4 linked regions of the Homo sapiens genome follow. The protein of the gene in region 3 interacts with the protein of the main gene of each other region in a biochemical or structural test. Each region holds a gene or a part of one and is shown on either strand. Other genes may lie near its edges. The genes, in order: ITSN1, GRB2, DNM2 and PDE6G.

What was found.
Region 1: the proteins of DNM2 (region 3) and ITSN1 form a complex in vitro, tested with the Homo sapiens proteins (2 studies listed by BioGRID and IntAct, with this or other methods).
Region 2: the proteins of DNM2 (region 3) and GRB2 form a complex in vitro, tested with the Homo sapiens proteins (3 studies listed by BioGRID and IntAct, with this or other methods).
Region 4: the proteins of DNM2 (region 3) and PDE6G form a complex in vitro, tested with the Homo sapiens proteins (one study listed by BioGRID).

Annotation. Positions count from the first base shown.
Region 1 is NC_000021.9:33,883,150-33,890,771, reverse strand, and holds part of ITSN1 (intersectin-1), read right to left. Parts: intron 7,223-7,622; coding exon 7,101-7,222; intron 5,732-7,100; coding exon 5,649-5,731; intron 5,334-5,648; coding exon 5,250-5,333; intron 4,486-5,249; coding exon 4,312-4,485; intron 2,621-4,311; coding exon 2,472-2,620; 3' UTR 1-2,471. UniProt on the Homo sapiens protein: Adapter protein that provides a link between the endocytic membrane traffic and the actin assembly machinery. Acts as a guanine nucleotide exchange factor (GEF) for CDC42, and thereby stimulates actin nucleation mediated by WASL and the ARP2/3 complex.
Region 2 is NC_000017.11:75,325,428-75,333,049, forward strand, and holds part of GRB2 (growth factor receptor-bound protein 2), read right to left. Parts: intron 7,371-7,622; coding exon 7,273-7,370; intron 594-7,272; coding exon 471-593; intron 1-470. UniProt on the Homo sapiens protein: Non-enzymatic adapter protein that plays a pivotal role in precisely regulated signaling cascades from cell surface receptors to cellular responses, including signaling transduction and gene expression.
Region 3 is NC_000019.10:10,825,457-10,832,403, reverse strand, and holds the end of DNM2 (dynamin-2), read right to left. Parts: intron 3,432-6,947; exon of another isoform or gene 3,369-3,431; coding exon 3,136-3,368; intron 2,278-3,135; coding exon 2,026-2,277; intron 1,427-2,025; coding exon 1,357-1,426; 3' UTR 501-1,356; downstream 1-500. UniProt on the Homo sapiens protein: Catalyzes the hydrolysis of GTP and utilizes this energy to mediate vesicle scission at plasma membrane during endocytosis and filament remodeling at many actin structures during organization of the actin cytoskeleton.
Region 4 is NC_000017.11:81,653,378-81,660,910, reverse strand, and holds the start of PDE6G (retinal rod rhodopsin-sensitive cGMP 3',5'-cyclic phosphodiesterase subunit gamma), read left to right. Parts: upstream 1-4,368; 5' UTR 4,369-4,418; intron 4,419-7,184; exon of another isoform or gene 7,185-7,253; intron 7,254-7,533.

The sequences.
Region 1 (7,622 bases), on a different chromosome or scaffold from region 3:
GCAAGGAGCATTTAATTTCTATGAAATATAGCCCAGGTGGTCAAGAAGGTAGAGGTGAAGGAACAGAGAGGCCCAATGGTTTGAGACTCCATGCATCACCCATGTTTCTCAATCCCTGTGACACAACTCATGAATCACAGCTGGGTCCGAGGGCCAGCCCGACTCCTCCATACGGACAATTGGTTACATTACAAATTACACCAGTAAATACAAGGACACTAATCCAGAACTTGCTACATGGCAGGAGCATCTCAAGGATGCTCAACAGAGTCACTTGAGGAAAAAGAGTCACATATTGCTTTCTCATGCTACATTAATTCCAATAATAGGACACTATGAGTGGGTGACCTGGGACCTAAAACGATTGTTTGTCATTGTGCATACCATACGCTACCTACATGAACAATGATGTCCAACATTAACACGCAAATAAAGTCAATGAAGAAAAGACAGGACAGAAAACAAAAAGAGATCGGAATGGTGACCCACACTACCCCATTTACACATTGAATACTTTTCTTTCTACCATGGTAGCATATCTTTCATAAATACACTAAACAAACGGTGTTGGTTATAGAAATAGGAAAGCATGAGTTGCATGTCTATTTATAGATTTAATTTAAAAGTTTCTTAACAACATCAAAAAATATAAACTTAAAGTATTTTAACCATGTTTTCTGCTGGGAAATGGTAAACAAATGCATGCCTGAAGTTAAACTTGGTCTCTAACATGTTCAGTTGAAAGTTTCTAACTACAGGGTATATTTGCTTGTTTCAAAAAATACTTATGTCTGTTGTTCTTGATACAAAATTCTACACTATCTTCAATAAATAAATAATAAAGTATTTCTTAAAAGTATGAAATGTAAACTTTGTTGTCCTTTCCAACACACACTTTTAAAAAAATTGCTTGAAGTATGACCGGGCTCTCATGGGAAATGATAACACTACACATTCAGTTCCCAGCAAAGGAGGTACTCTGCCACAACGCTGATGCTATCATTTAGAAAGCACTTTGATAACCCTAATTAAAGTCTAAGGACCTACAATCAAAGAGAACACCATCTAGTACAGGAAAGCTAGACTCCAGTACCAACAGAACATGCAAAGGACATTTCATGACCACAACAAACTAGGATTATGAGAATATTAACATGCAAACAAAACACGGCCCCCACTTTTCATTAGCAAATCAAGTTACTATCTAACTAACCAGATGATCTCCTGGCATTTAAGGGAAAAAAAAATTAAAGAACTCAAACCAAACAGCTTGGCACATAGTCATAAAGTCCTGACTCTTGCAACAAGCATATTATGTGAGGTTGGGGTGGTGGAGGGTGGAAAAGTGTCTTAGGTCTTTGCCCCGGGATGTGCGGGGCTTGCATCCTCCTAGGGTCTTTCACCCACCACATAATGGACTGCCTTCATTTTCTTTCCCAACCTCCAGCTTGATATTTTTCCTTTTCACGCCTTGGGGATCTAGGACATGGCTTTTTGGGGAACGTACCAAAAAGAGCTGTTGAAATGTCCTACAACAATCAGGATTCAGCACATTCAAGCACAGAACAGGTCACCAGCAACGACTGCTGCTATGAAATATCACAGGCCTCCGAGCCAAAAGAGATTTTTCCAACATGGCTGCCAACCGAGACCCAGTGACCCAACATTGTAAAGTTGCCTTTCCAGTGACCTGTAGTGATCTGATCCAGCAGAGGGGTGACTTTCTAGATAATGACTTTCTGTGACCATATTCTAAGCATGCTGGGAATCAGAACTGAATCCACGCAACAATACACCAGTGTGTTTTCATTGACATATATTAATACAAGGCCTAGAGGGGGAAGGAACGGCTATAACGGTGCACATGCTGGAAACTTCCATAGACCAGCTCTTCAAAGAGCTAAGCCAGGGCCTGATCAGACCGTCTCACCGAGTGATCAGCTCTAGGCAGCATTTCCCTGCAGGAGAGATGGGATTCTGAAGCAATGACAGGACCGTCATAATTGTTTCTAAACTCACACCAAGGACTGGGCATTGTAGGCCAAGAAGTCTACTTGGGGACTGGTGGATGTAAGAAACAGGAGGGTTACATGAGTTCTCCAAAAATATAGACATTGCATTTATAAATCTATTTTATAGTAACCAGACCCATCCCTCAAGCCCGGGAAGGGGCTAGACTCCCAGCTGCACCCTGTTGAGGGCTATGGGATTTCAGCGACCCTAGAAGCCATAATGAGACCTGTAGTGAGGACAAAGGAAAACACAGCTTTGTTTCATGAAACAGGAAATTGTTTCGGGGCAGGGAGGATTGTCGAGAATGATTCCTAGGAGCTTTGAGGGGCCTGTCTTTGCCATCCCATATCCCTGTGACTGAATACCAAATGGTGGTTTCTTAGAAAAGGAATACAATTTCCAGACAGCATGTGTGGCCGTGGGCTGGGACCCTGCTGAGCACACCCTGAGCCCGCTGCCTACGGCTCATCAAACAACTGCAGGTCCAAGCGGACCACAATCTCTCCCGTGGGGACTTCGTGCAGCAGAAGACACTTCGTAACTGGACCTTTGGAGCCCTGGTCTTTCTTGATGTCCGCCACACGGATCTCCGTCCGACCCAAAAAATCTGAAAAGAGAACAAACAGACCCTCCTAAGAGGGACCATTCCCTCTCTTCGAGGCACATGTCTGGCATATTGGGGACCCCCTGATGAACTGTTATGCTCTCCCTTCTTCTCTGGGCTCTGATGTAAACCAACACTAGGATTTCCAACTCGCTCCCCAGCGGAGTTGCCAATGTGTCATGGTATTTCATTACTTAAATAAAAAAAAAAACCCAACCCCAACCTTTATCTCTCAGAATTAGAAGGTGGCCGGGCACAGTGGCTCGCGTCTGTAATCCCAGCACTTTGGGAGGCCGAGGCAGGAGGATCACTTGAGTCCAGGAGTTTGACACCAGCCTGGGCAATAGAGTGAGACCCTGTCTCTACAAAAAATTTTTAAAAATTAGCCTAGCATGGTGGTTCATGCCTGTCATCCCTGCTACTTAGGAGGCTGAGGCAGGAGGATTGCTTGAGCCTGGGAGGTGGAGGCTGCAGTGAGCTGTGATTGCACCACTGTGCTCCAGCCTGAGTGACAGAGCGAGAACAACAAGAAAAAAGATAAATAAATAAAAAAAATAAAAAGAAAAAAGAATTAGAAGTTGACAGTACACATAGTAGTTAAGAGCCCAGACTTGGGAGCCAAACTGTTCCAGTCACACTCAAACATTTAACCAGCTACCACAACGAGTACCTAACTCACAATGAGATAATTCATATAAAAAGTACTAAAAGATGAAGGCCATATGGAGCCATTTAAACCTTGTACAGATAATGCTAGCATTTGACCCTCACTTCTTCGGTTATAATTAAGTTGAGACCATAATCTTTTAACTTACTCTGTGATTTTTTTTTTTTTGGAGACAGGATCTTGCTCTGTTGCCCAGGCTGGAATATAGTGGTACCATCATGGCTCACTGCAGCCTCGACCTCCCAGGCTCAAGCAATCCTCCTGCCTCAGCCTCCCGAGTAGCTGGAACTACAGGTGCATGCCACCATGCCTGGCTAAGTTTTGTATTTTTTTGTAGAGACAAGGTCCCACTATGTTGCCCAGGCTGGTCTTAGACTCCTGGGCTTAAGCGATCCTCCTGCCTCAGCCTCCCAAAGTGTTGGGATTCCAGGCCTGCAGCACCATGCCCACCGGTGATTTTTATTGGGTTGAGGGAGAGACAGGTAGTTTCTTGGAATCATTGGGCTGAGACTATTCTTTTCCAGGCCCAAGCAGAAACAGAAGGCTGGCTGAAGAAATGATTCATTCAACATGACTGCATCCCTTTGCCTACTTAATAAGTGGTACAAAAATGCCACCCAAAGGGACCTGGCCCATTCTGCGGCTCCTGTTGTGGGCTAACATCCTTGTTCCATTGGCCAGTTTCATCCATTGCCAGCACAGCTTTTTGCCAAGGACTGAAGAACTATGCTGAGGCTCTTAAACACACCCCTCTCCACAGTCACCTGCTTTGGAAAGCAGAAGATGGACGTGTTTGCCCAGGGCAGCTGGCACAATTCTAGACCAAGCATGCTCTGTCCACATGCAATGAGACGCCTCCAGAAGACTCCTCCAGGGGAGACAGAGCCTCGTCTTGTGCCAGCCAGCCTCATCTCTCAGGAGGGAAACCGAAGGAATCCTGGCACCAAGTCCCCAGGTAAGAAAACATTAACCCACGCAAACGAGTGCCAGGGAAGGAGGAATAACCACAGGGCCGCGTTCCACTCACCATCTGGTGAGAACTGGTCCCTCTCGAACACAGTGATGCAGAGGACTTCCTGCTCCAGGTCTCGGATGAAGAACTGGCAGTTGGAATTCCACTTGGGGTTCAGAGTGTCCTGGATCGTCTTGGTGATGTGGCACTGGGAACCCATGGTCACCTCACAGTACGGGTTGCTCTTTCCTGGAGGGAACAAAAGCCTTCGCCAGGTGGAACTCACACCTCATTTTGATCTCCACTCTTTTTTTTTTTTTTTTTTAGATGGATTCTTGCTCTGTCGCCCAGGCTGCAGTGCAGTGGTATGATCTCAGCTCATTGCAACCTCCACCTCCTGAGCTCAAGTGATTCTCCTGCCTCAGTCTCCTGAATGAATAGCTGGTATTACAGGTGGCTGCCCCCATGCCTGGCTAATTTTTTATATTTTTAGTAAAGACGGGCTTTCACCATGTTGGCCAGGCTGGTCTCAAACTCCTGACCTCAGGTGATCCACCTGCTTTGGCCTCCCAAAGCACTGGGATTACAGGTGTGAGCCACCATGCCCGGCCGCTCCCCACTCTTAATAACTGCTATGCTTAATAAGTGTCATTCGGTGGAGAATCCGGGTGGAAACTCCCAGAAGTCAGCTTCATCCTTAAACTAAAAACAAATACTTAATTGAGTGGGCTTTGAAACTAGGCCCTTCCTGTCTCGTTACTTTGGCCTGATCTTGTGTCACATCCACTGTGAATGCAGCCACTCAGATCCCTCGGAGAAGCAGAATGGTAGAAAGGATGGAAAAAAAAACACAAAACCTCCAGGTTTTTAACAAGTGCTAGTTAAACCAATTCTGGAAGGAGATCAGGGAGTATGGAAATAGCACATTTGATCTAGAGCCAGGTGGGGGTGTGGGGAACCCGGACCCTACTCCCAACCCCAAAGCAGGAGCCGGGGGCGCCTCACAGCCTTACCATGTGACCGACAGGGTTTCAACTCGATGCCTTCAACCACGTTCACCATCAACCTTCCAATGCCTGTTGCCCTTTGGGAACGGACTATGACGGCAGGAAAAACACAAAATGCTTCATTTGAACGTGCCACACCTTTCCCATCTCTGTGAGCCTCACAATGCATTTCATGTACCTCTCCCGACTCAAAAGTAATTCTTCCCTCTCCTTAAACACTTGCTTCCTTGCTCCTGGAATTTGCCCTCCATCCCCATCTGCATCCCACCCCAAGCTCACTTCCATCTCATTCCATGCCCCTCCTCTAGGTCCAGGGGATTCTTCTATTCTGAGGATTTTCAGCCCAGCCAAATGGCCCTCCCTCCTGCCCAGCTGTGCAGGACACCCCGCGGGGCCATGCATTACCCAGGTACGCTTTCTCGCGCTTCTTTTTCTCAGTCTCTATGTAGAGTTCAGAAGCAGCTTTGATTTTCTGCACCCAGGCAGTCCTTGGACAGAAAAAGACAGAAAGTTGCCAAACAGAAACTCAGGAAAAAGGCTTCAGGTCTGTTCAAACACTGTTGCCAGGACTCTGTTTCTTTGTTCATTTGATTTTAACAACAAAGGCTCGGGAAAGAAAATCTGATTTTATGTCACGTGACGCTAATACTTATTCCTGCCATCGATAAGAAAGGCATGAGGGCCATTTCCATGGATGTCCTCAAGACCTGCGATGATGTCCCCGGGGAAGAAAATCTGTGATAGATGCTGTCTTGGAGGCAACATCGGGACACGACTCCTCTTCCTTCCTTACCGAAGAGCAGCACATATTTGCCTAATCCAACAAAGCCAGAAGGATCTCGCTTATGAAATCACGCAAAGAAAGAACAAAAACCACTTCCCAGATTGGGAACCACTTCACACGAAAGACCAAAACGCCTTGGGGGAAGGCATTTGTGGCCGCGGTTTTCTCCTTCATTTTTTCTGAGAACCATATGCACAAAAGCTTTAGCCAATTTTCTTGCTTGGTGCAAATGCTCTTTGGAATGATGCTGGCCTTGTGTCAAGTTCACCCTTCAGAAAATGATCTATTTCATTTGGCTCCAGGGCAGTGTCTTGAAGACAGATTGAAGCAAAATACCCACAGCCCTAGGTTCCAGAATGCCCATTTAAGTCAGCCAAGGTGAGGAGAGGTTTGGGTTTGCGTGGTCCTATTAACCCCGAAATTACTTTCCTATTGGTTTCTGCCACCTGGGAAGCCAGGGGAAACCTGAGATGCTCTGTTTACCTCAAAGAATGCGAAACATTTCTTAATAAAACAACAACAACAACAACAACAATGCCAGGTGCAGTGGCTCACCCCTGTAATCCCAGAATTCTGGCATTCTGGGAGGCCAAGGCGGGTGGATCCCTTGAGCCCAGGAGTTTAAGACCAGCCTGGGCAACATGGCAAGAACCCATCTCTACAAAAAAATATAAAGAATTAGCCAGGCTTGGTAGCACATGCCTGTAGTCCCACATACCTGGGAGGCTAGGGTGGGAGGATTACCTGAGCCCAGGAGGTTAAGGCTGCAGTGAGCTGTGACTGCACTACTGCACTCCAGCCTGGGTGACAGAGTGAGACTCTGCCTTAAAAAAAAAAAAAAAAAAAAAAACTCAAGCAAAATTAGTTTGAATCCATGTTATTTTGGAAAGGGCATGCCATGTGACAGATTTTTGAGAGGCTGTAGAAAAAAGTAATAGCCCCATCCCCACTCCCAGCTAGGGGTGATGGCATTGCCACTTGGGAAACATTGGCACCTGATTAATCACCCGCCCCTTGTGTGTCCTAGAGCCGTGGAGCCCTGGGGCCCATGCTGGGGAGGCGGCAGGTCTCACCTTTCATTTATGCTTTCTGCTCGGAGAGTATAGACGCGGTCAATGTGGGAGATGTGGAAGATGGGCTCGTCTCCAGAAGGGTCGGTGGGTAATTTTACTAGAACCTCATTTAGGAAAATAGGCTGGAAAGTAACACACAGGCATTACAAAGCGAGGCTGGGGGTCTGTGTGCTCCGGTAAACCGTGAGTGTGTGAGCACACTTATGCCAATGTGTTCTAGTAAACGAGACTGCAAGTCAGCGCGTGTGTGCACACTCGTGCGTGTGTTTCAGTAACCTAGACTGAGCATGTGTGTGTGTTTCTGGGTGTGTTCCAGTAAACCAGACTAAGGGCGTGTGTGTTTTCCAGTAAAGAATCCCAGAATAATAATTTTGGGTTAGCATCAACTTTTACATATTACAAATTATAAATATGATAAATATGGGTTCCCCCGCCCACGATTTTGCGGGTATGTTTTAAGTCTTTCAGAATAAGATCTGGCTGGTGTCGCTTTTCCTGGTGTATTCTAAACAGCAGTTTTCA
Region 2 (7,622 bases), on a different chromosome or scaffold from region 3:
ACACCTGAACTTTCCACCGGGGAAATGCAAGCCCCACATCCCCTGCAGCAGCCTTCTTAAGTGACTGTGAGGGCCTAGGATGGGGCTGGTTGATTTAAGTCAGTGGACCTGAGCAAGGCAAGCCAAGGCAGCCGACAGGCGCTCCACTATCCCATTAGAGAGAGCTGCGGGAATCCCTTGGAGGGCAGAAGCTCAGGAGTGCTGGGCACTAGGGAAAACTGGCAGGCTCCAGCTGGCTGCAGGGAGCTGCTGCTCACCTCCTGAAGGCTGTGTCCACATGGGAATCTACATCCAGTGCTTCTAGAACTCATTTTGAGAGGAGCCAGAAATTAGGATTTTAATGTGAAATGAAGAAACTGTTTAGGCTAAGCCTCCACCATTTTGTGTGTAGCCAGGCACCTGACCAACGGCTTCACAATTTGGATCAGTCAGAGACAGGATTCCAGGCAACTGCAGCAGGAAATACTTACTTGACAGAGAGGGAGAAGTCCCCAGGAGCGCTCTCACTCTCTCGGATAAGAAAGGCCCCATCGTGCCGCTGTTTGCTAAGCATTTCTTCTGCCTTGGCTCTGGGGATTTTGCCAAAAAACCACCTAAGGAAGGAAGGCAAGCTGGTCAACATCTGCTTCCCCACAAAGAAACGGGATATCCAGCCTTCAAAATGTGAGTAACACAACACTCCTTGCCAGAGGAAGGGGCCTCCCTCCTCATCCTCCAGCCTCACAGTGCCCAAGATCGACACTGGGTTGGGTCCCCAGAGATGGACCTTCAAAGGTCTTTAGCCTACTCCATTTCCCAGAAAGCGACTCACCAAGGCACTAACCGTGGGTCACTCTTTCTATAGAGGGAGACATTTGAAAATGGGCCCCCCAGGCCAAAGCCCACTGGACTCCCTACTGACTCATGACAAAGGCGCCTGGGGAAAAGCTCAGGCCTTTGGGCTTGGTGTACGGGATGAACTGCCAAGGAGAGACTGGCCCCTTCCTGCAGCCATGTGATAAGATCACAGCTTCACCACAGTGGGACTAAGGGAAAGTGGGGAGGAAACCTGGACGGCCAGGAGCTGGAGGCAGGGTTACTTTTGCTAACAGCCCAAAGGCAAAAGGTTCAGATAGTATGAGGGTGCCTCTACCAGTAACTAAGGTCAGCATTCCTCTCAAGGCCTGCCTCTGGGGCCACTGCTCAGAGTTCAGCTTTCAGAAGCCACCAGGAATATTGTAATTTACCATATGCTCAGCAGCTAGCTGCAAAATTCAGATTTTTGAGGCAAGTTGCAGACTCTTCTGCTCCCAATTGCTGATTCACCTTGGCCAGAAGAAAAAGTGGCTAAATTCATGAAAAACTGTGAAGCAACTGGCTGTGGCTTATCAAGAGGAAGAGGAGAGGAACACTTCTACAAGAGCTTCAAGTCAAGCTGCCTCACTATTTCAAATGAAAACTATAATTAGGAAGAAGAAACTGTGAAAACCATGTTCTCTTCTCAAAATTGTCTTTAGTTATCATTTTTAAAAGCAAAAGTTATAGCAAATAAAGACCTATAAACATGGAAACTGGCATTCATTTAATATGCTAATTATAATATCAAAAGTCCTTTTAATGGACCAAATAGTCCATTAAAGTTGTAAATCTAACTTACATATCTTTTCTTTTTTTTTTTTTTTGAGGAGTCTAGCTCTGTCACCCAGGCTGGAGTGCAGTGGCACGATCTCGCTCACTGCAAGCTCTGCCTCCCGGGTTCACGCCATTCTCCTGCCTCAGCCTCCCAAGTAGCTGAGCAGCTGGGACTATACATAGGCGCCCGCCACCATGCCCGGCTAATATTTTGTATTTTTAGTAAAGATGGGGTTTCACCGTGTTAGCCAGGATGGTCTCGATCTCCTGACCTTGTTGATCCGCCTGCCTTGGCCTCCCAAAGTGCTGGGATTACAGGCATGAGCCACTACGCCCGGCCCTTTTTTTTTTAGATAGAGTCTCACTCTGTCATCAAGGCTGGAGTGCAGTGGCACGATCTCGGCTCACTGCAACCTTCGCCTCCTGGGTTCAAGCAATTCTCCTGCCTCAGCTTCCCTAGTAGCTGGGATTACAGGCGGCCACCACCACGCCCAGCTAATTTTTGTATTTTTAATAGAGACGGGGTTTCACCATATTGGCCAGGCTGGTCTTGAACTCCCGACCTCGAGATCTGCCCGCCTCAGCCTCCCAAAGTGCTGGGATTAAAGTCGCGAGCCACCACGCCCGGCTAATTTACATATCTTACTTATAAGCAACCATATTGGAAGATGTACCTAAAATAATATACTATACTCAAATTCAAACAGAAAGATGTGATCTGCTAGGAAGGATACACTTAGAAGCTGCCCTTAGTAACTTTGTCCTTGTGTGTGTGTGTCAGCCTCTAGGGACTCTTAGTAACTCTGAATAGTCTGACATCTACCTGCTTGGAGTCTTTCTCATTTTGCATACTCTACTGCCAGGATGCTGAGGAGCTGGGACAATAGATCCTCCTGCTTCTACAAATAACTCAAGGCTAGGGCCTGCAGTGCCTGGAAATCAGGCCACACAAGAGAAATCACATATCACTAGAATAGAATGCTCTCTAAATATAAAAGGACAGGCTGGGCCCGGTACCTCATGCCTGTAATTGCAGCACTTTGGGAGGCTGAGGTGGGGTGAATCACTTGAGGTCAGGAGTTTGAGACCAGCCTGGCCAACGTGGTGAAACCCACTCTCTACCAAAAATACAAAAATTAGATGGGCACAGTGGTGGGCACCTGTAATCCCAGCTACTCGGGAGGCTGAGGCAGGAGAATCACTTGAACCTGGGAGGCAGAGGTTGTAGTGAGCCGAGACTGTGCCACCGCACTCCAGCCTGGGCGAAAGAGTGAGACTCTGTCTCAAAAAAATATATAAATAAATAAAATAAAAAAGGAGGCTGGGTGCGGTGGCTCAATGCCTGTAATCGCAGCACTTTGGGAGGCCGAGGTGGGCGGATCATCTGAGGTCAGGAGTTCGAGACCAGCCTGGCCAACATGGAGAAACTCCATCTCTACTAAAAATACAAAATTAGCAAGGCGCGGTGGCGCATGCCTGTAATCCCAGCTACTCGGGAGGCTGAGGCAGGAGAATCGCTTGAATCTCCGGGAGGCAGAGGTTGCGGTGAGCCGAGATCGTGCCATTGCACTCCAGCCTGGGCAACAAGAGTGAAACTCCATCTCAAAAAAATTAAATAGGCCGGGTGTGGTGGCTCACGCCTGTAATCCCAGCACTTTGGGAGGCCGAGGCGGGCGGGTCACAAAGTCAGGAGATCGAGACCAACCTGGCTAACACGGTGAAACCCTGTCTTTACTAAAAATACAAAAAATTAGCCAGGCGTGGTGGCAGGTGCCTGTAGTCCCAGTTACTCAGGAGGCTGAGGCAGGAGAATGGAGTGAACCTGGGAGGCGGAGCTTGCAGTGAGCCGAGATCGCGCCACTGCACTCTAGCCTGGGCGACAAAGCGAGACTCGCTTTCAAAAAATAAATAAATAAATAAATAAATAAATAAATAAGGACACTTAACGGTATTGAGACCTTCTCAATCGGGGGGCCCCAATCAACGGTATTTAAACCTTCTCATATCGGGGGGCCCTGGGTTTCTAATATAAGTGTATGCAGCATGCATCTGACTGGGTACAGCAGTGAAAATCCACACATGGCCTCGGCTGGCTCTCCCCACACTGCCCCACACTCCCCACCACTGCCACTTCCAATAGCAATGGTGAGGGTGAAGATTCTCAATCAGCAAGGCTCTCTTTCCTCCTAGGCCCCCAAGATCTCTCCACTAGGGAGGTTTTTTCCCATTTGTAGGTATAAAATAATGAATATAAACTGAAATAGCCTAGATGTACATGAAGCAAACATAAAAAGTAAGATGCTTCCCTCAAACTCCCCAGAGGCAGCACGTGTTGGCGGTTCTAACACTTAGGTTTCCAGACCTTTCTGTCTGGTGTCACATAGACATGGCTGCTGTGTTTTCTTGCCCCCAGCTTAAAATTAACGCAATTTTATTTTCAATTAAAAAAAATAAATTGTAGTGAAGTACAAATTATAATGTTTAAAAAGTACTCTAACTGGAATTAAAACCAAAAACCAAAAAAACCACAACTCTGTTATAAGCACCCAGATCAAGAAATAAAAAATCTGGCACCAGGTGCAGTTGCTCACGCCTGTTAATTCCAGCACTTTGGGAGGCTAAGGTGGGAGGATTGCTTAAGCCCAGTAGATCAAGACCAGCCCGGGCAACACAGTGAGACCCTGTCTCTACGAAAAATAAAAAATTAGCCAGGCATAGTGGTGCACAGCTGTAGACGCAGCAACTTAGGAGACTAAGGTGGGAGGATAACTTGAGCCCAACCTGGATGACAGAGCAAGACCCTGTGAATAGCTGTCACTACTAAAACACTGAAATACCACCATTCTACATTTCTATAGCATTTTATATCATTTATAAATTTGACTTTTTAAAATGATGATATGTACATGTGACTACATGCTTACGGGTGAATTTTTTTTATTTTTTATTTTTTGAGACAGAGTCTTGCTTTGTTGAATAGGCTGGAGTGCAGTGGCGTGATCTTGGCTTGCTGCAAGCTCTAACAGGCAAATGTTTTGAAAGTCTTTAAAAAGATGGGCTTTGGGCCGGGTGTGGTGGCTCACACCTGTAATCCCAGCACTTTGGGAGGCCGAGGCGGGCGGATCAGGAGGTCAGGAGATTGAGACCATCCTGACCAACACAGTGAAACCCCATCTCTACTAAAAATACAAAAATTAGCCAGGCATGGTGGCACATGCCTGTAATCCCAGCTACTCAGGAGGTGGAGGCAGGAGAATCCCTTGAACCAGGGAGTTGGGGGTTGCAGTGAGCCGAGATCGCGCCACAGCACTCTAGCCTGGCGACAGAGCGAGACTCCATCTCAAACAAACAAACAAACAAACAAACAAAAGATGGGCTTTGGCAGGGTGCGGTGGCTTACACCTGTAATCCCAGCACTTTAGGCCAAGAGCTCGAGATCAGCTTGGCCAACACAGTGAAACCCCATCTCTACTAAAAATACAACAATTCGACGGGAGTGGAGGCACGCGCCTGTAGTCCCAGCTACTCGGCAGGCTGAGGCACAAGAATCGCTTGAACCCAGCAGGCGGAGGTTGCAGTGAGCTGAGATAGCACCACTGCACTCCAGCCTGGGCAACAGAGCAGGATTCCGTCTCATAAAAACAACAAGAACAACAACAAACAAAAAACAAAAAAAAAAAAGGTGGGCTTATACAACAGAAATAGCAAGGGCGAGAGCTAAGGGGGTGAGGGGAGAAGGCTAATTTTCCAATATAATTCTTTACTACATCCCGTAGGCTCCCATCCATATGCATTTAGTGTGAAAAGCACATATTTGGATCCACCCCTCAAGCATATACAACTCATGCTGCAGCACTAATGCCAACAATCATTTTGTAGTCTAATTTGTTAACTTGAATGCTGCATTAGCTGACATGGTGCTACATTTTATGCTTCCCTCTTCCTCCATAACCCCTGCTCCCCACCCCCACAAACAAACAAACAAACAAACAAAAAAACAGGAGGTGGTAGGATGTGGAGGAGAAGGCCTGGTACTGACCCTGACCCTATACTCATGAACATCCAGCCACAGAGCAGCCCTATACAACAGCAACTACGTCTGCAAGGCCAAACACCTACATAGGCACAAGCATGGTCTTTGTTAGCAATATGGTAGACCTGAATAAATAAGGGTTTTTAAGTTGCTAGTTGCCTTTTCAGAGCTCAGAGTGGCTGAGCACTGCCCACCCTTTGGGCAGAGTCTGCAAATAACAACACAGCTGAGCCTGTGCTGGGTGCTTCTCCATCAATTCTTCTAAAGTTCTTCATAGTGGGGACAAAAGGTCAAGGCAAGGGAGTGACTGTCCCAGTCAGCCTGGCAGTAACTACAACTTTCCAAGGAAGGTAGCCTTTCCTATCTTTCCTCAACAGTCAGATTTAAATGCCTGTGTCACCCGAAACACTGAAGAAAAATAAGAATTTCGAGCCACAGGCATGTCATATAAGAAGTGTAGTATGATGTTCTGTTGAATTCCCTTTCAATCTGAAAATATGAAAACAAAAGGGAACTGAAGTCGATGTTGTGTTTGGATCTAATGAAGGAGCCAGCAAACAATAATGGCCTTCTGCCCAAATCTGCCCACAACCTAAGACTGTTTTTTAAATTTCTACTCGATTGTTAAAAGAAAATTTTTACAAGGAATATTTGACAGGATTGTATGCAGCCCACAAAGTCGAAATTACTTGCTATCTGGCTCTTCACAGAAAAAGTTTAGCCAACCCTTGACCTACAGTTTCTTTTGAGGACGACTGAAGGAAACAGAAGTACACAAATTATGTGGCTTATATGGGACCTGGGGAGGATGTGCTGTGATCCAACAGGCCCCTCCCACTCAAGATGCGACAAGCCACCTGAAAGTCTCCGCCACCAGCTGCTGTGAAAGCAAGTGGACAATGTCCAAGGGCATTCTAGTCTGAGCGTGGAAAGCCTCAGCTCCCCTGACACACTTGTAAGGCAAGCCAGCAACTGCTTCTGTGCTAGGAGCAGGGCCTGTGAATGAGGGGTGGGTGAGAACGGGAGGACAGTGGTCTGCAGGGGCTCTCAGGGGTCCACTATGTTGCGTTATTAATAAAATCGTGACAAGGGTAGCTTCTGAAAAAAAATTAAAAATATTCACTGCTCCCAGCAGCCTGGAGGACAGCATATTTTGTTCTCTTGTAAGTAGGAACACTAAGATGGAGGGATAAACATTTATTGAGAACTATTAGATGCCAAGCACCGTACTCTGGGGATACAAAGATATTAAGATACCGTCCCACAGCATTAGCACATATAAACACAAAATCATCTAAGTACCTTTTCTAAAACTCAAAAAAAATGCAGAATTATAAAACACATCTGGCTCTAAGACATATTTAACAGAAAAAGAATTACGGACCTGCACCAACTATCGTTTTATTTTTGAAGATCACTGACAGTTATTATCAATCTAAAACATATAATATTATTGACTATGATATATTATTATATACTATTAACATGCACAATCAATATCCTTTGTTAATTCCCTAGAAACGTGAATAAAAAGTATGACATCCATCCCAGTGATCTCAATTTTAAAAAGAGTGTTTGAAACAAGGAGGTGGGTCCAACCCTTCCAAGACTAATGGAGCTTAACTTACGGATGTGGTTTCATTTCTATGTAGTTCTTGGGAATGAAGCCGTCTTTTCCATTAAGCTCTGCCTTGTACCAGTTCTGATCACATTCTTCGTTCAAAACCTGAAAAGAAATAAGACAACAAAAAAACCCAATCATTTCCTTTTCCCTTTAAAAAGATAGTTACAAGACAATTATGCTATCTTTTAGGTCTGTGAACGGTTTCACTCGAAGTATTATCAGTTATACGGATATAAGACTCCTTTTAACTTCAAACAACCAGCATTATGTTAAACTCTGTTAAAATGAAACAGAAATTATCTCTGAAAATGAAAATTCAGGCTCCCAAACATCTGGAATGAAACCCTCAGTAAG
Region 3 (6,947 bases):
CCAGGACAGACCGGCCCCCGAGGGGGCAGCCAGACAGGTGGGAGGGGCCTCCCACGAAGCTCAGAAGAAAGGTCGTGCGGGAGCCGATGGAGGTGGTCGCCTGGCACAAGAGAAAAATCAGAAAGCAAAGTTTAACTGAGCCCCAGTTGGGCCACGAGGCTTGGGCTTCCCCACGAGGTGAGAGAAGCAGGGCCTGAGGGTAGGAAGGGGGTGGAGCGCTGGGGTCCCCGCTTCACCAGGCAGCAGCCAGGCCTGTGCACGTGGGGGTGTGCAGGGGGTCAGAGAATATCTGCTCCCACTCCTCACATGCTAAGGAAAGTAAAAGCTCTCCCCTGTATCGAGTGGCTTCCTCTGAAAGGTGACACCCCCGAAAGCAGAGCCCTCAGGGAGATGGGAGGCACTTATGAGTGCAGGGACTTGGGCATCCTTATGGGAGGCCTGATGGAGGTGGCACCCATGTCCCCAGCCTGAACACTAACACAAGAGGCCCACACAGCAGCCACCAGCAGCGTCTTCCCTTTATTTTAGTTTATTAATAGAATACAGAGTGCAGGCACTTACAGTGGTCAAACTGAGCGAGGAGTGGGTGAGGTCTCCTCAGAGAGAGGCCGCCCTGGGCCCACCCATCAGGGAGGCATGGGCGGGAGCTGAGAGGCCCCCAAGACCCCCCGCCACCACCACCCACATAGCCCAAGCCCAGCCACCCTGGGGGACCCAGGAGGAGGAGGAGGAGAGGAATAGGGCAAGGCCGGCCCGGGCCAACGGCTCCGGGCCTAGCAAAGGCACCTCTGGCAGCCGAGGCTGGGCCAGGCTCAGGCTGTGTGGTTAATATGGCCGGGAAGGACTATGTACACCTCAGGCCTGCCAGCTGGGCACTACCGAGCCCACTGGGCCAGGCTTGCCGCTGGGGAGCTCCTGCTAATGGGAAGTTGATATACCCCTGCACCCCAGCAAGGCCTGGGGATGTAGGCGCCCTTGGTGCCCGCACTTATAGAAGGCCTGCCCTACATGGGCTTTCCCAGCCCAAGAAGACCTTGGTAGAGTCCCCCCCAGGCTGGACCCCTCATTCAGGATGGTGTCAAGGGTTCTGGTCCCCCCTCTGCCACCCTGAGACTCCATCCCCCAAAGTGCAACACCCCAGCGCCCCCTGCCTGGAGCTCCAGGGCCCCTTTGCGCAGTGCGGTGTCCAGCCAGGCACAGGGGCCGGCCCTGGACCGGGGCCAGCGTTAAGGAAGAGGCCAGGGCTGCCCACTGGGAGCCTGGTCCCAGCATAGGGGCGGCGGAGGGCCCCAGACCACTGAAGCTCCTGCGCCGCGGGTGCGTGAGGCCCCCCCGAGAGCACGCCCCCCTCGAGGCCTAGTCGAGCAGGGATGGCTCGGCTGGGCGGATAATGGTGGGCCGGCTGGGCGCAGCAGGGGGTCTTCTGCTGCAAAGAGAATAAAGACAGGTGGGGAGGGGGAGACGGCAGTGAGGCCGGGAGCAAGAGGCAGGCCTGGGTTGAGGACCCAGCCCCCACCCACACACCACCCCAGGGTGTTCCCAGGCTGACCTCCGCAAGCCACCAGGGTGTCGGGCAGGAGTGCCAAACCTAGGCATCAACTCGCCTGCTGTTTGACCCTCAGTGAGCCCCCTGCCCTCCCTGGGCCTCAGCTTCCCCACCGGAGAAGTGGGGAGAATAAAGCCTGGCCCACGGTAGGTTGAGGCAGGCAGGAGCAGGAAGGAGAAGAAGGTAAACAGTGGGAGGAGGTGCCCAGTGTGAGGGTTCCCCAGCTGCCTGGTGGCACACCCCAGTAGGCAGAGGGCAAGCTGGGAGCCCCGGAGTCACCAGGGCTCCGCTACTCTGTGACACTGAACAAGCCTCTTGGCCTCTCTGGGCCTGTTTCCTCGCAAGCCAAATAGGGATGAGGACGATTCCTCCACTCCAGCAGCTGGGCACGTAGTGAGAGCTCACTGGGAGGAAGTGAGACAGGAGGAGAGACCCCAGGGTGCAGGCAGTTGGGGTGGAGGGCAGGGGGTTGGCCTTACCTGGGCACTCCTGGGGGAATCCCTGGGGGGATCCGAACTGGCCGAGATGGGATCTGAGGCGGGGCTGGGAAGAGGTCACTGTTGGCAAACACGCTCTGGGGTCCAGGCCGGGATGGGATTGGGGGCGCCGAGAAGGAGGCTGCTGCCCCCACGGGAACAGGAATCAGGGGGGGCCCTGGAGTGGGGCCCCTCACTGCTGGGGGCCGGCCAGGGGGGTGTATGCTGGACACCGGTCGGCGCTGTGGAGTGGGGCTGTGAGGAAGGAGAGGGTGTGAGCTACAGATACAGATGGAGTAGGAGCCCCCGCCATGCCACTGTGGCTGCCAGAACCTGAGGTGGGGGCTGGCTATGGGGACAGCGCAGGCGCAGTGGGATCCTCCCACCCCAACCTGAGCGCCAGTCCCACCTTCCCTTGCCCTCGGCCCCCTCAGGCACTTCCCACTCACAGGGCCCCCTCAGGCCTTGGGCCTGGGATCCACCCTCACAGCCAAAGACACTTCCAGAGTCCTCCAGATCAAGCCCTAATATCTCTAGGGGCCGTGGAACCTGCAAGCCCTGTCCAGACATCCAGATTCCCTCCTGGGCCTCAGTCCCTGCCACCTGCAGGCCTGGGTGCGATATCCTCCCCTTAAGGAACTCCATGGCTCCCCCAGGGCTCTGCAAGGCAGCCCCCTCTGAGGTTCCCTGCCCGACGGCCTCAATGGACAACTCAGGGGCGGCAGCAGCTCTGGCCACGCCTTGCGTTTGCCCCTCCAGAGCCTCCCATCTGCCCTTCTCTGTGCTCCAGGAGGCTCATCTCTCTCCTGTGGCTGCTGCCCCTCCAGCCTCTTACCCCAGCTTCCATTTGGGCTGTGCCAATGGAAGGCACCAGCAGAGGGCAGGCGGGGTATTTATTCACAGGGTCCTGCCCTAGAGCTGTAGGGCTGGCTCGCCCCCATACCCCTTCTCTCCCTCCTCCGGCCTCAGCAGGGCAGCAGCTCCCACAGTGCCCAGCCCTGGGTGCCACCCTTGGGCTGTGTCCTGTTTCCTGCCAGGACCCTGCAGGACACACAGGGAGGGCAGGAACCTGCAGGCCGAATGCTTGAGGGTAGGGGAACCAGGCTTCCGGACCTGTGGCTGCTGGCGCTCTGGAGCCAGGTGTCATCGACAGGCGGGGGTACAGGCGTGGACACAGTGCTGGTGCTGATGTCACCGATGATGTTGAGCGCCTCCTTGAGGGCATGGTACATGCGCAGCATGTCGTCCCGCCGCTGTGCCTGGTCAGCCGACTCCTCCATGAGGCTGCTCTGGTCTGCCGAGGAGTATAGGTAGGCCAGCAGCTCGTGGTGGATGAAGGCCTTCGTCTGCGGGCAGGGGTTGGGGAGGGTCAGGCTTGTGTATCACCCCAACCCAGAACCCACAGTGACTGCTGGAAAAACATCTCTCACAGGGCGGGGCCACCCCCAGACTTTTTTGAAAAAGAGTCTTGCTCTGTCACCCAGGCTGGAGTACAGTGGCTCAATTTCAGCTCACTGCAACCTCCGCCTCCCGGGTTCAAGTAATTATCCTGCCTCAGCCTCCCAAGTAGCTAGGACGACAGGCACGTTGACACCATGCTTGGCTAAGTTTTGTAATTTTTTTAGAGATAGGGTTCCACCATGTGGCCCAGGCTGGTTATGAGATTCTTATTCAACTTATTTCTAGTATCTTGCCTCTTCCATTGATGTCTTTTCTCCTGTTTTAGCTTATTTATTTATTTCCTTAACCTTGGCAGAATAATCCTGTTATATCTTTTTTGTTTTTGCTTTTTTTTTTTTGAGACAGTCTCACTGTCGCCCAGGTTGGAGTGCAGTGGTGCAATCTCAGCTCACTGCAACCTCCGCCTCCCGGGTTTATGCCATTCTCCTGCCTCAGTCTCCCAAGTAGCTGGGACTACAGGCGCCTGCCACCACGCCCAGCTTATTTTTTGTATTTTTAGTAGAGACAGGGTTTCACCCTGTTAGCCAGGATGGTCTCGATCTCCTGACCTTATGATCCGCCTGCCTCAGCCTCCCAAAGTGCTGGGATTACAGGCGTGAGCCACCGCGCCCAGCCAATCCTGTTATATCTTTATTTTTTTGTGACAGAGTCTCACTCTGTCACCCAGGCTGCAGTGCAATCTTGGCTCACTGCAACCTGCGTCTCCTGGGTCCAAGCAATTCTTGTGCCTCAACCTCCCAAGTAGCTGGGACTACAGGCGTGCCCCCCAACCCCCGGCTAATTTTTGTATTTTTAGCAGAGATGGGGTTTCACCATATTGGCCAGGCTGGTCTTTAACTCCTGACCTCAGGTGATCCACCCGCCTTGGCCTCCCAAAGTGCTGGGATTACAGGCGTGAGTGAGCCACTGCGCCCGGCTAATCCTGTTACATCTTCCACCTGGCTTCTGTTCAAACACTACTAGTTTCTGTTCATGAATTTTATACATTGTCCTTTCTGGAACCTCCTACTGGATACAGAAGTTTTTCAGTTACTTTTTTTTTTCTTTTTTTTTGAGACAGAGTCTCCCTCTGTCACCAGGCTGGAGTACAGTGGCATGATCTCCGCTCATTGCAAACTCCACCTCCTAGGTTCAAGTGATTCTCCTGCCTCAGCCTCCAGAGTAGCTGGGACTACAGACGCGTGCCACCACGCCCAGCTAATTTTTGTATTTTTAGTAGAGGGGGGTTTCAGCATGTTGGCCAGGATGGTCTCAGTCTCTTGACCTCGTGATGTGCCCGCCTCAGCCTCCCAAAGTGCTGGGATTACAGGCATGAGCCACCACACCTGGCCGTCACAACTTTTTTTTTTTTTAGATAGGGTCTCACTCCTATCACTCAGGCTGGAATGCAGTGGAGCGATCTTTGCTCACCGCAGCCTCGATCTCCTGGGCTCAAGTGATCTTCCTGCCTCAGCTTCCCGAGTAGCTGGGCCGACAGATTTATTATTTTCTTAAATAATAAAATATTTTTATTTTATAAGAGTCTATTAAAAATGGATAATTATGTCCCATCTTTGGCTGCTATAAAACATCATGGAAAACAATAAGCATGTATAAGCTCACTTTGCACGTGGGCAATTGTCTCTCTTAGAGAAGTTCCTAAAAGTAAACTTGCAGGGTCAAAGGATATATGCATTTTAAATTTCATAGCAGAAGAACCGTATATGTCTCCGATCCTATCGGTATATGAGGAAACATACCAGGACACCATGAAACTGTGAACACTGATCACTACTGAGAATGGGAGCAACAGGGTGGGAGGGCATGGCACGTGGGAGGTGTGTGTGTGTTTTAAATAGGGATGGGGTCTCACTATGTTGTCCAGGCTGGTCTTGAACTCCTGGGATCGAGTGATCCTCCTGCCAAGCCTCCCAAAGTGCTGGGAGTACAGATGTGAGCCACCATGCCCAGCCACACCCTGTGTGGGAGTTTTACTTAGATCCGCAGGTTTCTGTGGTTGACATTCATATACAAAACCCAAGACACTTTTTTTTTGAAAGAGGTTCCTGCTCCATCACCCAGGCTGGAGAGCAGTGGCGTAATCATGGCTCACTGCAGCCTCAACCTCCTGGGCTCAAGTGATGCTCTTACCTCGGTCTTCTGAGTAGCTGGGACTACAGGCATTTGCCACCACGCCCAGCTAATTTTTAAATTTTTTGTAGAGACTGGGGTATGGCTATGTTGCCCAGGCTGGTCTTCAGCTCCTGGGCTCAAGTGATCCTCCCTCCTCAGCCTCCCAAAGTGCTGGGATTACAGGCATGAGCCACTGCTCCGGCCCCAAAGCTGGTTTATAAAGCTTCCTGAGTGGCTAGTGCCATGCCAAAGGCCTGATACACAAGTGCCCTGAGCCCTCTAGCAGCCTGAGCTGGAGATACTATCAGTACAGCTGCATTTCACTGAAGAGGAGCCCAGAGCCCTGAGAGTCTCCAGGGAACCCGGGGCCAGGCGGGTGACGCCCATGAGGAAGAGGCTGGGCCCCAGATCATTAGGACACAGCGGCTGCCCAACACAACCCAAGGGTATGGTTGCAACCAGGGTAAACGTGGGTTTGAATCCCACTTCCCACTTTCCTAAGGAACTTGGGGCAGGTTACTTGATCTCTCTGGCCTTGTTTTCTGTCTGTGAAATGGGGAAGATGGCCGTTCTCCCTCCTGCAGTTATTCTGATGCCAGCCTAAGTTAATTCAGAGAAGGCGCACACCTGCAGTGTTCACTCCAGTTAGTGGACTTGATGGGACTATGGACCCAGTGTGGCTCGGAAACCCTAGGGTTTCCCAAAGAGGATGGCCGTGCAGATTCTGGTGTTCAAAGGGTGGTGATTCATTCAAATTTGTTGTTGCTGTTGTTGGACACAAGGTCTTGCTCTGTCGCCCAGGCTGGAGTGCAGTGGCATGATCATAGCTCACTGCAGCCTCAACCTCCTGGGCTCAAGTGATCCTCCTGCCTCAGCCTCCCAAAGTGCTAAGACTACAAACAGGTATGGCCTAGGGTGCCTGGCCTCCTTCTCATTTTTTTTTTTTTTTTTTTTTGAGATGGAGTCTCGCTCTGTCAACCAGGCTGGAGTGCAGTGGCACGATCTTGGCTCACTGCCATCTCCATCTCCCAGGTTCAAGTAATTGTCCTGCCTCAGCTTCCCGGGTAGCTGGATTACAGGCACCCGCCACCATGCCCGGCTACTTTTTGTATTTTTCTCTCTCTCTCTCTCTCTTTTCTTGAGACGGAGTCTCACTCTGTCGCCCAGGCTGGAGTGCAGTGGTGCACTCTAGGCTTACCACAACCTCTGCCTCTTGGGTTCAAGCGATTCCCCTGCCTCAGCCTCCTGAGTAGCTGGGATTACAGGCGTGAGCTACCGTGCCCGGCTAATTTTTGTATATTTAGTAGAGATGGGGTTTCACCATGTTGGTCAGTCTAGTCTCGAACTCCTTA
Region 4 (7,533 bases), on a different chromosome or scaffold from region 3:
TATTCATAGTTCAACATGAGCACTTGAAGTAATTAAAGACCCCAGGGCAGCACACAGAATCTGCTTAGCCTGTAGATAGAGAACACAAGAAAAGCCATGGCAAAAAACTACGTATGTCCGGCCGGGCACGGCAGCTCACGCCTGTAATCCTAGCACTGTGGGAGTCTGAGACGGGCGGATCACTTGAGTCTAGGAGTTTGAGACCACCCTGGGCAACATAGTGAGACTCTATCTTTACAAAAAATACAAAAATTAGCCGGGTGTGGTGGTGAGCACCTGTAGTCCCAGCTACTCAGGAGGCTGATGTGGCAGGATTGCTTGAGCCTGAGGAGGTCAAGGCTGCAGTGAGTTTGTTTGTTCTCAAAAAACAAACAAAAAACAGTTTATAGTCTTTATACACAGCCGCTTTGGGAAAGCTCCATTCCTTAACTTGTGCTTGTCTTGGTCTTCCTGTGTGTAGTTACTGCTGTAGAAAAGTATTAATAGCTTCATTTTTTTGTTTTGAGACAGAGTCTCTGTCGCCCAGGCTAGAGAGCAATGGCACAATCTCTGCTCACTGCAACCTCCACTTACCGAGTTCAAAAAATTCTCCTGCCTCAGCCTCCCCAGTAGCTAGGATTAAGGCACCTGCCACCACGCCTGGCTAATTTTTTGTATTTTTAGTAGAGACAGGGTTTCGCCATGTTGGCCAAGCTGGTGTCGAACACCTGGCCTCAGCTGATCCACCTGCCTCAGCCTCCCAAAGTGCTGGATTACAGGTGTGAGCCACCGTGCCCAGCCTAATAGTCTCATTTTGTTTCTTTTCTTTTTTTCTTTTCTTTTTTTGAGATGAAGTTTCGCTCTTGTTGCCCAGGCTGAAGTGCAATGGCACGATCTTGGCTCACTGCAACCTCTGCCTGCTGGGTTCAATCGATTCTCCTGCCTCAGCCTCCTGAGTAGCTGGGATTACAAGCATGCACCACCACGCCCGGCTAATTTTGTATTTTTGTAGAGACAGGTCTTCTCCATGTTGGTCAGGCTGGTCTCCAACTCCTGACCTCAGGTGATCCGCCCACCTTGGCCTCCCAAAGTTCTGGGATTACAGACGTGAGCCAATGTGCCCGGCCTAATAGTTTCATTTCATGTAAACATAAGTAACTTCCAAGCAATTACGTAGAGGGCTAAAATTGTACCTGGTATTTAAGTCATCAGAACCGGTTCTGCAAGTGACTGTGTTTTGCATTATTGTGAAGATATGAAAATGTGGTGAACGACAATTTAAAGAGTGTTCCACATCACCGTTTAATTTCTTTTTTATTATTTATTTATTTTTGAGATGAAGTCTTCCTCTGTCGCCCAGGTTGGAGTGCAGTGGCGCCATCTCAGCTCACTGCAACCTCCGCCTCCCGGGTTTAAATGATTCTCCTGCCGCAGCCTCCCTGGCAGCTGGGACTACAGGCGCCCGCCACCACGCCCCACTAATTTTTTTAGTTTTAGTAGAGATGGGGTTTCACTATATTGCCCAGGCCGGTCTCAAACTCCTGACCTCAGGTGGTCCAGCCACCTCGTCCTCCAAAAGTACAGGGATGAGCCACCATGCCTGGCCTATTTTACTATTTCAGAGTTGAGGTCTCGCTCTGTCACCCAGGTTAAAGTGCAATGGTACAATAATAGCTCTCTGCAGCCTTGAATTCCTGCAGCCACCGATATTTCACTTCTGCATTCCAGCCTAGGTGACAGAGCCAGATCCTGTCTCTCAAAAAAAAAAAAAAAAAAAAAAGATATGGATTGCAATCTTGTTTCCTCTGGGGCTGAGTGAGGGATTGAGCCATGTGGGACAAGAGGTTTTTGACTTGTTCCATTTATTGCAGCATAACTTGAATCCAGCCGTCCTTTCTGGACTAGTGATTTTTGCCAGTCTCATGGCTAGAGTTTTACAATCAAGGCTATAGGGTCTTTGTTTAGGTCTATTTGGAGCTTTATGTATTTTCATGTGATTGTCTTTGTATATTGTCTGTGATACATGATACCAAAAAAGGAGTACTCATACATTTTATTTTATTTTACTATTTATATTTTTATTATTATTTTTTGAGACAGAGTCTCACTGTTGCCCAGGCTGGAGTGCAGTGGTGCAATCTCAGCTCACTGCAACCTCCACCTCCTGGGTTCAAGCGATTCTCCTGCCTCAGCCTCCTGAGTAACTGGGACTACAGGTGCATGCCACCACGCCCAGCTAATTTTTGTATTTTTAGTAGAGACAGGGTTTCACCATGTTGGCCAGGCTGGTCTTGAACTCCTGATCTCAAGTAATCCACCTGCCTCGGCCTCCCAAAGTGCTGAGATTACAGGCGTGAGCCACCATGCCCGTCCAGGTTTTATTTTTAATTTTTCAAAATTTTCATATTTCTTCAGAGATAGGGTCTCTCTCTGTCCCCCAGGCTGGAGTGGTTTGACCATGGCTCACTGCAGCCTCGAGCTCCTAGGCTCAAGGGATCCTCCTGCCTCAGCCTCCCAAGTAGCTGGGTCTATAGAAGTGAGCCACTGTGGCCAGGCACGGTGGCTCACACCTGTAATCCCAGCACTTCGGGAGGCCAAAGTGGGCAGATCACGAGGTCAGGAGATTGAGACCATCCTGGCTAACATGGTGAAACCCTGTCTCTACTAAAAATATTAAAAATTAGCTGGGCGTGGTGGTGGGAGCCTGTAATCCCAGCTACTCAGGAGGCCGAGGCAGGAGAATCACTTGAACTCAGGAGGCAGAGGTTGCAGTGAGCCGAGATCAGGCCACTGCACTCCAGCCTGGGCAACAGAGCGAGACTCAGTCTCAAAAATGAAATAATAAAATAAGAAGTGAGCCACTGCACCTAGCTAATTTTTTCTATTTTTTGTAGAGATGGGGGGGTCTCACTATGTTGTCCAGGCTGGTCTTGAACTCCTGGCCTCAAGTGATCCTCCTGCCTCAGCCTCCCAAAGCGCTGTTTGAGAGCCACTGCTCCCGGCCGAGTTATGGGTTTTTATTTATTTATTTATTTATTTATTTATTCATTTGAAACAGAATCTCGCTCTGTCGCCCAGGCTCTAGTGCGGTGGCGCGATCTCGGCTCACTGCAAGCTCCGCCTCCCGGGTTCACGCCATTCTCCTGCCTCAGCCTCCCAAGTAGCTGGGATTACAGGTACATGCCACCACGCCCGGCTAATTTTTTTGTATTTTTAGTAGAGTCGGGGTTTCACCATGTTAGCAAGGATGGTCTCGATCTCCTGACCTTGTGATCCACCTGCCTCAGCCTCCCAAAGTGCTGGGATTACAGGCATGAGCCACCACACCAGGCCTGAGTTATGGGTTTTTAAAGGTGCAGAGGCAGAGGTCACAGGCAAGTCATAAATCAGTACATGGAGGTTGTACACTGGTTTTGCCATAAATAGCAAGGAGATCTTGAAGCCAGGGACCACGGGTCATAGGTGGATTCAAAGGTTTTCTGATTTGGTGCAGAAGCGAATCTTTGTCTAAAACTTTGGGATCCGCAGGAAAGAATGTTAGCTCTGGGTTGTGGGCATGGCCTCCTCCAGGCCCCTCAGGATGGGCATAGCCTCCTCCAGGCCCCTCAGGAAGAAATTTAGGTAAGAGAAGGGTGGTCAGAGGCCAGTCCTCAGCTCCCGCTCATGTGAGGTCTGTGTGCCAGCACGCCCCTTTGGTGGGAGTCCCTGTTTCTGGAAAACAACTGAGGAGCACCTGCTAAGATGGCATGGTTTGCTTCTGTGGAGACTCTCGGGACTCTGGCTTCCATCTGTTGTTCTAAGCTCCTGTGACCTTCTTGTGACCTTCCTGTGGATCGGCTGCTCATTTCCTTCTCTGGGCTGGCTGGGGGCCTGGCTTGCCCTTGAAGGAACTCAACATTGTCCTTGCTTCTGTGCTTGGGAAGACCCACAGGCCCCTAAGGGCGGGGGGGGGTCCTTGTTTGGTTTCAGGAGCAGCAGGTGCAAAGGCCCTGGGGTGGGAGGGGTGAGATGTGAGGCCACAGCAGCGGGTGAGGGCCAGGCTGCAGAGGGTTTTGGGGACCATGAAGGTGGGCCCTTCAGAGATCAGGCAGGGTCAGGAAAGGCAGTAGGGAGGCCCAAGACAGCAGACACTGTGGTTGCTTCCATCTGGAAGATGGGCAGCTGCAGGAGCCTGGCTGTTCAGGGTCACACTTCTCTCCCTGTCCCGGCCCCATCTGCTGGGTGTCCTTCCTTGGAGCCCTTGACAGCACCTGAGCCCCTCCTCTCCATCCCCTGAACCTTGGTGGTTGTGCCCCCCCTCGGGGCCCAACAATCTCATTAGGGTGGCACTGAGACGCCTAATCAGCTCATGAAGCAGCGAGATAAAGGCCGGGGCTGGCACCCTGCGGAGGGAGGCCCAGCACTCACAGCACAGCCCCCTGAGACCCGCCCTGCACTTGGTGAGTAGTGGCCAACCCCGCTGTCTTTCCTGGCAGCCACTTCCCCCAGTGAGTCAGTGGGGGTCTGCTCATCACCCAAGGGGCAGAGGGAGCTGACAGGCTTTTACCACCGTGGCTGAGGTCTGGGTCTGCAGATGCCTACCCGCCACCCTGTTATTCAGAGGGGACTCCCAGCCAACCTCCTCCTCTGCTCCCCCATGGTAACCAGTGCTTCCACCATCCCCAGGCCAGTGATGGTCTGGGAACCTCAGGCCACGTGGGCTCAGCTGACCTGAGTGGACGCCAGTCACAGGCTGGGTCGGGCCAGGGCAGCGCAGGCAGCGGTTTCCACATGGATGGCATCTGATGGTTGGAGCTCCATCAGGGCCCAGAGCTGCCCAGGACAGCCCATGTCCCAGGGCTGGAGAAGCAGCTGGACGGGGCCTGTGCTATCTAGGATATGAGGATTGGGTGCCATGGGATCTGAGCAGCTGGGACCACCGGGCTCCTGAGTGCTGGTTTTGCACAGGCTGGTGCTGGTCCCAGTCCCGGGGACAGAGGCTGAACCTTAGTGAGGGAAGGTGCCATGGCAGGGTCCACCCCAATCCCAGGTGCCCAGCACCCCTTGCAGAGCCCGCGTCCCCAAAATGGGCCACCTGCCCTTGCTTTCTGATCACTCTCACGCCTGAAGCTCGGCAAACAGCTGGTAGTAGCCCAGGGCTGGAGTCAGGAATCCCAGCCAAAAAGACCAGGGGCAGGAAAGGGGACCCCAAGAGGTGGTCCCTGGGGCATCCAGTGCGGGCAAGCAGCCCCTCCTGTCTGTGTCATGTGCCTCCTTCCAGAACTTTCCGGCAGCATGTGCAGCTGACAGCAGCTCGATGGGAGATTAGGAATTCCCCTCTGCTGTTAATAGGCTTAGGGGAAGCTGAACTGCCCTTGGCCCAGGTCACTGGGGCTTAGGGCATCTGGGGAGAGGCTGTAGGGAGAGGAGGAGGAGAGGCCACCCTGTGCAGCAGTGCAGGGACACTGATCTCGTCCAGAGCGGCCGAGGCCCTTCAGCCACGCCACGCCACGCCAGGCGGGTGACCCTGCTCCCCGAGCTGACTCCAGACACAGAGAGGGCCTGGTGATTCCCCCAGCAGGGGGAACACATGCCCGGCACCCTCCGTCCCCAAGCCCCAGCTTGTCCCTCTATGAAGTGGGGTTGGGGAACGCAGGGCTTCACAGCTCAGCACCAAGTCTCTGAGACAGGCCCCTTTCCCAGGGGCGCCGTGCCTGGGGACCCTGCCCCCCATTTTGTGGGTCATTCTCCATCAGCACTGCGGGGTGCCCGTCATGGTGCTGAGGGGCTCAGGGATGCCTCCGTGAGTGGGTGAAGGGAACTGACAGCACCCCAACTGCAAAGCACAGACAAGAGGCAGAAAGCAATAAACCCATCAATAAGAATCAGAGGGGTTGGCCGGGCGCAGTGGCTCACGCCTGTAATCCCAGCACTTTGGGAGGCCAAGGTGGGTGGATCACGAGGTCAGGAGATCGAGACCATCCTGGCTAACATGGTGAAACTCCATCTCTACTAAAAAATACAAAAAAAAAAATAAATTAGCCGGGCGTGGTGTCGGGCGCCTGTAGTCCCAGCTACTGGGGAGGCTGAGGCAGGAGAATGACGTGAACCCAGGAGGTGGAGCTTGCAGTGAGCTGAGATCGTGCCACTGCACTCTAGCCTGGGCAACAGAGCGAGACTCCGTCTAAAAAAAAAAAAAAGGTGAGATTCCAGCCACAGCTCTGGAATAGGATCCTAGGGGGCTACTTTGGCAGGTATTAAAACTTTTTTAGGCCGGGCGCGGTGGCTCACGCCTGTAATCCCTGCACTTTGGGAGGCCGAGGCGGGTGGATCACAAGGTCAGGAGTTTGAGACCAGCCTGACCAAGATGGTGAAACCCCATCTGTACTAAAAACACAAAGAAAAATTAGCTGGGTGTGGTGGCGCATGCCTGTAATCTGAGCTACTCCGGAGGCTGAGGCAGGAGAATTACTTGAACCCGGGAGGCAGAAGTTGCAGTGAGCCAAGATCTCGCCACTGCACTCCAACCTGGGTGACAGAGCAAGACTCTGTCTCAAAAAAAAAAAAAAAAAAGAATCAGAGGGCAACAGCCCGGGAGACGCCCACCAGCCTGGAATCAGGGCTAACTCGACGCGTGATGAGAAGCGGCAAATCAGAACCTAAGGACACAGTGGCTGCAGGGCGGGGGTTCAGGGGAGACCTCCCTGAGCGGGAACTTGAGATGGAGGCAGCCCACTAACCATCAGGAAGGGCAGCTCAGAGGCAGGCTCCTCTGCTGGGCCTGGCAGGCCCATTCCCAGCAGGAGCCACAGAGGACTTTCATCAGAGTAGCAGCTGGGCCGGGTGCGGTGGCTCACGCCTGTAATACCAGCACTTTGGGAGGCTGAGGCGGGTGGATCATGAGGTCAGGAGTTCGAGACAACCTCGTCAACATGGTGAAACCCCGTCTCTACTAAAAATGCAAAAATGCAAAGATTAGCCGGGCATGGTGGCAGACGCCGGTAATCCCAGCTGCTGGGGAGGCTGAGGCAGGAGAATCACTTGAACCCGGGAGGCGGAGGTTGCAGTGAGCCGAGATAGTGCCACTGCACTCCAGCCCAGGCAACAAGAGCAAAACTCTGTCTCAAAAACAAAACAAAACAAAAAAAAACCCAGAGTAGCAGTTAAATGCCGACGGGAGTCACGCTTCCCTGGGGTGGGGAACGCAGGGGAAGGGGCAGGAAGTTGTCAGTGGTCACCCACAGGGAGGTGGTGAGGACTCCAGGCTCAGGACCTGCCACAGGTTGGGAGGCTAGGTTTGCTGTGGATTGTGGGCCGGGGCGAGGGAGGCCAGGACAGGGGGGAGTCCGGAGCTGTGTGTGGCCAGCGTTGCAGGGGGGCATCCACTAGGCAAGGGGAATGGGAGCGTGCGGGTGGACCCAAGCAAAGCTGGCAGGCTGGTTACCCCAGGGCGGATTGCAGGGGCTGCTGTCTGGATGACGCTGGAGCTGGCGGGGCTGGGTCTCAGCCCCTCCACCGGTGGGTTGAGACCCCCACAAGGGTTGGAAGCAGGAGGGCTGACTGGGACCCGGGCCT